Linked DNA regions of Homo sapiens. The protein of the gene in region 1 purifies or fractionates together with the protein of each later gene. This does not show direct contact. Each region holds a gene or a part of one and is shown on either strand. Other genes may lie near its edges. The genes, in order: UBR3 and CYB5D2.

Region 1 (3,824 bases):
TTCAAGTTAATTGAATCTTGCATATTACATATACAAATATCTTCCTGTCTAGTAATTTCTTTATTCACAGAGCATATAGCAATAATTTGACATCATACTTTGATGTCTGAAAACCTATGCAGGATGACATGGAGTAAGAGGGGTATAATTGTAGAACCAAGGCAGGGAAAAAAGTGATGAGCACACCCAGAGTTTGTCTTCATATGAGCCATAGGTTAAAATCAAGCCTACATTTTAGATGAATGATTATTGTATGTATGCTGATGGAAAATAAGAATTTTTCATTTTAAAATATTTAATCTTTTCATATAATTAGGTGATAATTATTGTAGAGGCAGTGTAGTAGACATTTGATTAATTTATTAATTTATGCTAATGCAGAATTTTTGCCAGTTATGTAAGTACACCACCATTTGACCTGTATTCCCCCTTGTGTCCCTGCTCCACTCTTGTGTTCCTAACCCTGATCCTGACCCTAGGTCAACCAGATTCTCTTTCTCAGGAATGTTAAATCTGTATAGCGAGACTTAGCAGGGTAAATGGTGACAGGAGCTGTATAGTCCAACAGTACTACCCTTGAAAAACTGTCTGTGAATTACTACTTCTGAATTTTTTTATCAGTTAAGATTCTTTGTTTGGGAACAACAAAATCCAGTTCTGATTTAAAATAAGGAAAACCAAAGCAAACTATGACAGAAAAAAAAAAAAAAACAGGATTCATTGGAAGCATACTTGGTAACCTGCAGAATTGAAGAGCTTAACTGTCATCGCTTGGGAAGAAGAGAAACCACAAATATCTCTGCTCTGTTTTCTCTGAAGTGCTGCCACCAGATAACTAAGCCTCAACCATTTTCCTTCCTTTAATTTGCATGCTCAAGGTTCAGATTCCTGGGAGAGAGAATCTGGTTGGCCTAACTGTTGTAATACATATACCCCAGTGGTGGGGCAGGATCTTGTGTTGGGGACAGCCCCATCAGAACTGTACGGAGCAAGAAAAGGGGTTATTTTCTAAAAGAACTTATAATGTTATTAATATAAGAAAGCAGCAAAGGATGCTAGGAGGATTTAAAAAACAAACTAGTGGCCCACTACTTTCACATCTTACCTGCCTGGCTCATACACACCCTTCTTCTCATTCACAGTTTCACTTCTGCTGTTGAAAATGATGTAACCATTTTACTTATGACTGCAAATGCATCTGTGACTTTCCCAAATAAGCAACCTGATGTCACATATAGTCCTTACATCATCAGGCCTCTCTGCATCCAGTAGCTCTGAGAGATGTCCATTGTTCCTGTCATTTGTACTCACACCCAGATGGCCTGGAAAATTTTAATTAGTACCTGCTCACCCTGAATTCAATAGTAAGAGAATGAAAATGTTGCAAAGATATATGATACAGTAAGCAAGATTTGCAAGTAGTCATAAAGCTGCAGCTAATATACAGTCAAATATATATGACTTTCTTCTTTTACCATCCGTGATCCAGCACACCTCAACGGATGATTGGATTTGTTTGAGCAAGGATGTGATACCAAACTTTATTCTGAAAGGGCTGAGCTTCTGGTGATTGGTCCTGTCTTTGTTTCTATAAGGCTGTAATCATTCTGTGTTAAATTTCTGCCTTTCAAGCTTGGTCTATGGTAGGGGTGGTGGTAGGGGTTTTTAAGTTCCAAAATATTGCTCTACCAATTGTATGGCAATATTTTTATTCTTCTTGATAGTCATGGTCAATCCCTCCAGGCAATGCGATAAGCCACCCTTGTGATGTTATAAACCGTACTAGAGGTTAGACAGTACATAGCTTGTAAATCCGCAGAAGAGTCCGGAATAGCAGTGAAGCAGAAATTTAAGACCGAATTTTTTTTTCCATTTTAATGTTTACAATTTAATAAATCTCTTGATTGCAGACATGTAAGGCTGTTTGGTAGTATTCAGAAACATCACAGTAATGGCAGTTTTTTCAGTTGGTGTGTAGTCTTCAATAAATATCTATGAAAGTGCTGTCAGACCAGTAAGACTGCATTTATACATCCATCATTTTCAGGATTGTTGGTAACCACAGCCTATTTTCCCCAAATAACCTTGCCTCCTTGTGTCACAAGGCCCAACTCACATTCACCTCAGTAACAGTACCTTTGGTAATAACATCCAAAGTTATATACATTGGGAATGAGGGACTCTTCTTTACACCAAGTATTGTTAGGCAAAAGGTGGCTTTCAGTTCAGGATGTGTTACATGGGCTTTCTTGAAACGCAAGCCCATTGGCCTGATGAATCTTCCATAGATAAGTAGTTTTCTTGTAAAGCCATCTCCAACAAAGCAGACTTTAGTAACCATCCTCCTCTATGCCTGCGTCTTTCTCTTTCCTGTTGGAATAACTTTGAGACAGAGTCTCACTCTGTTGCCCAGGCTTGAGTGCAGTAGAGCGATCTTGGCTTACTGCAACCTCAGCCTCCTGGGTTCAAGTGATTTTCCTGCCTCAGCCTCCTGAGTAGCTGGGATTACAGGCGCCTGCCACTATGCCCAGCTAATTTTTGTATTTTTAGTAAAGACAGGGTTTCACCATGTTGCCCAGGCTGGTCTTGAACTCCTGACCTCAAATGATCTGCCTACCTTGGCCTCCCAAAGTTCTGGGATTACAGGCATGAGCCACTGCACCTGGCTCTGTTCAAATAACTCTTAACACTTCTGTATCTCCCTGGGCAAGTTACATTTAGACAGAGGGACTTTCCATTTTCCTGCTTTCTCTTTTCATTTCGGCTTAATCATACTGGGAAGTACGTTAGCTTGAGGTTGTCCCTCTCTGTCCAGCAGATAGGCAGGTACTGCTCCCTGTGGAGTCTTTCTTTTGTCTGGTGTTTCTCTTTTCATGCATCTTGATGGTCTTTTTCATTTGTATTTTCTCAGCATGGTGCTGTTTAAGATAAAGCTTAGCCTTCAGACCAATCATTTTCTTTGACTTCTTTGAATGTTCATAAGCCTCTCAACTTTCCTTCTTTCCCTTTTTCTCATGGTAATCCAAATGATATCCATGGCATTTACAGTGTAATTCAATATATTTGATCTGTGGCATGGCACAGGCGCAGCCCCTGGGGTGCGAAAATGCTCTCAATTTTTGGGTCTCAGAGACCCACGAGTGAACTCCACACAGGCCGCAACAGGAAAGGCAAGACCGAATTTTAGGTGTAATCATGAGAGGTGTTACAGCTGTTAAATACTTTCCACCTCTTGTTTCCCATACATATGCATTCCAATTGTGAAAAAGGTCACCCATATATACTGGTTGCTGTTTAGAGCATACACATTCTGTAGGTGATTTCTTCCAGCTGGTGCCATCTAAAAGTTTGTAAATTTCATGAATTTCATAATTTTTGTGGCACTGAAAAAATCAGTTTTGTAGTTCATGATTTAAAATACCACAGCTTTTTTCAGATGATTGAATATATGTTAAGATCAGTGAATTCCATGGACATCCACCTGTTGCCTTACATCTCTCTTCATGAGGGAAATTATTGGAGGTAATGTGCTATGGGCTACTGGATAACATGCAGCCTAACCTATAATAAGTGTCAAGTTCAGTGAGGACAAATTGTTATCCCTTCCCTTTAATGGAAGGGTTCCACTGTAATCAACTCATTACAGAATGCCATCCTTGGAGTCCAGGGTTGGGTGCTGAGTATTGGCAAATGATGTATTGTATACTGTTCTTATCATTGCTTCCATGGACACTTAATCCATGAACTTGTTGATGAGGAACAAGCTAGCTTAGTTACTCCACTGATTTAGGTGGATTATGGCTGCATGTAGGTAATGTGAGATG
Region 2 (2,825 bases), on another chromosome or scaffold:
GAGGCAGGCAGGTCGCTTGAGCTCAGGAGTTGGAGTCCAGCCTGGGCAACATAACAAAAAAACAGTAACAAACAAAAAAAACCACTGCAAATTCGGAGTTCTCAGCCTTAAATGAGCGGAGCAAGGGCAAAGGTAGCAGGAAGGAAAGCTCCTTCTTTCCTGGCCGCTAGCTTTGAAGAGACAGCTTCTCCAGTGTCATCTCAAGAAAGAGGGGACTGTGAGAACCTGGCCTGCTCACTTTATGGAGAGAAGCTAAGATAGGCGTGGGCCTTCCTGTGACACAGGCCTGAATGCAGGTAGCCTCAGAGAGCACTGGTCTCTGAGACTCCAGGAGGAGGAGACTCCAGGAGGCCTGCGTGCGTTCAGATGCTTGACTTTGCTTCCTTGGGCCCTGCCTCCTTTTCCCTCCCCACAGCCTTCCCCTGTGTCTCCTGAACCTCTTCTTGCTTTCATGACTGAGTAGTTCAGGCTCTGCCTTCCCCACAAAACCCTTCCAGGGCCACCCTAGTGAACTGCGGGGCCCTATCCCTGTGCCTCAGCTCAGTTTGTTGTCTTCTGTTCACCTGTGTGTGTCCCATTAGACTGAGAGGAACAAGTGCCGAAGGCAGGGACAAGGTGTGGAGTACAGATCCCCAATGATGGGATGGAGGCTGGGTAGAAGAGGGAGGCGTTTGGGTGACAGCCTTGTTCTTGGTAAGCTAGAAGTAGGATGTTTTCTCGCTGGGGGCAGTTTCTCTGACAGCAGGCACCGGAAGCTGTCTGAGGCGTCAGTTCCAAGAACCTCAGTTTCTTTCTTGCAAGGCCTCTGAGTCCATCAGAGACTGAGCCCAGTGCCCTGAGGTGGGCAAGGCCCCTGCCCAAGATAGGAGGGTGCTCAGGTTGTTGGGCCACAGCTGAATCCTCCGTGTCTGAAGCCTAGTGCCATCAAGGACTGGACCTGTGGGGCACAGGACAGCTTGCAGCTACACTCTATGCCAAGGGCTTCCCAGAGAAGGCCGACCCAGGTGGCCAAGGGCCAGGGCCCAATTGCCCACCCCCAGCCAAGTGCCCCAGAGAAGAAGGTGAAGACCCTGACCTGCGCTGGGTTGTAGTGGGGAAGGAAGAGGACAGTCGCACCCAGACACTGCTTCTGAGAAGCTCACAGGCCAGCAGGGGAAGCCCTTTCACAGCTGTTGCCACCAGTGCAGGAACGTGGTGCTGCCTCCTAAGAAGGGGCAGGGCAGGGGCTGGGGAGCACAGTGAAAGGAACCATGGACTGTGCCCTTGGCCTGGGGAAGGTGGTGGTGGCCCTGCAGGGGAAGCTGGAGGATGTTAGGAGAGAGCATGAAGGCTCAGGGGCTGAGCGCTGTAGCCTGCTGCCTTGGGAAACACTCTGGTAGGCTTCTACTTTTCAGAAGGCCTGGCTCTCTGCTTCCTGCTCTCCCCTTCCCAGAGACTCATGAGTTCTCACATTTAAGAAGTCCTCTTTCCGTCTATCCTTAGTGGAGGTGTGAGCAGAGACTGGATTGGCGTCCCCAGGAAGCTGTATAAGCCAGGTGCTAAGGAGCCCCGCTGCGTGTGTGTGAGAACCACCGGCCCCCCTAGTGGCCAGATGCCGGACAACCCTCCACACAGAAATCGTGGGGACCTGGACCACCCAAACTTGGCAGAGTACACAGGCTGCCCACCGCTAGCCATCACATGCTCCTTTCCACTCTAAGCCGTAGCCTCTTCTGTTAATAACACACAGAGAGCTCTGCCAAGCACCTGAGTAGGCCCTTGACACTTGTGTGCCCTGGGATGCCTCCTGGCGCGAATCAGGAGGGTCTGGAAGGACTCTGGCTATATTCTGCAAATGTGGCTCATGCCCCTTACCGTGGCTCGGCGTTGTGGTGCCTGAGGGACAGCCGGCCACCTGCCCAGTACTGGTCAGCTTTTCAACACTATTCCCTTTGACCTACTGGCCATCTTCCTCACAGCCCTCAGATATCAACGGGCACAAATAAGACCAACTCAATTTCCACTTGAATTTACAACCAAAAGCCTGCTGAGTTGATTACAGCTGGGCCAATACAGTACGAGGCAATAACAAATTAGTGTGGGTTGATTCTGGAATTGGAAAAGCTTTTGCTTGTATGGATACAGCAAATCCAGATGTCTCTGAACAAAGCAACAATTTAAAGCAACGACATTTTCTGTCCTTTAAGCACTTAAAATCAGGTGTGGTGTGTTTTCAAAGGCAGAAGTCTGCATTTTGAGCAAAAGGTGGCTTCCCAGCTCTAACAAGGTAACTGGTTAGCATGACATTAAAGCTTGGGCAAGGCTTCAAACTTAAGGTGGCTGGGCTTGCTGCTTGTCCAGTGGTTTGTATGTCCAGCGTCATCTGGCAATGTCATACCTGTTACCTCTTGACTACTTGTGAAGGTAGATGGGGGCAAGGAGTGTTCCTACTTCAGACAGAGAAGTGGGACCAGCACTACCACAGACAGCGCCACGGCCTCTGTGCATCGCCTCATCAGAGCTTCCACCCAGCTCCCTTTGCCGCTCAGTCTCACCCTCAACATCCACCAGCTTCCTCCCTCTCTGTCACTGTCTCCTTTTTCTCCATCATTCATTTCACTAAATCGCTTTCCAGATTCACAGACTAGAAAATGGAGGCTGCCTCCCCTTCACTGGCAGACCCGTACTCACTGCCCCTGTCCCCTTCACTGGCAGACCCGTGCTCACTGCCCCTGTCCCCTCACTGGCAGACCCGTGCTCACTGCCCCTGTCCCCTCACTGGCAGACCCGGGCTTATTGCCCCTATGGCCACAGCTGTTCCTTACACTTGGGCTCTGGCTCATGGC

What was found.
Region 2: the proteins of UBR3 (region 1) and CYB5D2 purify together in Homo sapiens (co-immunoprecipitation; one large-scale study listed by IntAct). This does not show direct contact.

The regions. Positions count from the first base shown.
Region 1 is NC_000002.12:170,075,218-170,079,041, forward strand, and holds part of UBR3 (E3 ubiquitin-protein ligase UBR3), read left to right. Parts: intron 1-2,250; exon of another isoform or gene 2,251-2,386; intron 2,387-2,684; exon of another isoform or gene 2,685-3,170; intron 3,171-3,824. UniProt on the Homo sapiens protein: E3 ubiquitin-protein ligase which is a component of the N-end rule pathway. Does not bind to proteins bearing specific N-terminal residues that are destabilizing according to the N-end rule, leading to their ubiquitination and subsequent degradation.
Region 2 is NC_000017.11:4,155,384-4,158,208, forward strand, and holds the end of CYB5D2 (neuferricin isoform 1 precursor), read left to right. Parts: exon of another isoform or gene 1-41; intron 42-563; exon of another isoform or gene 564-810; intron 811-1,482; coding exon 1,483-1,699; 3' UTR 1,700-2,314; downstream 2,315-2,825. UniProt on the Homo sapiens protein: Heme-binding protein which promotes neuronal but not astrocyte differentiation.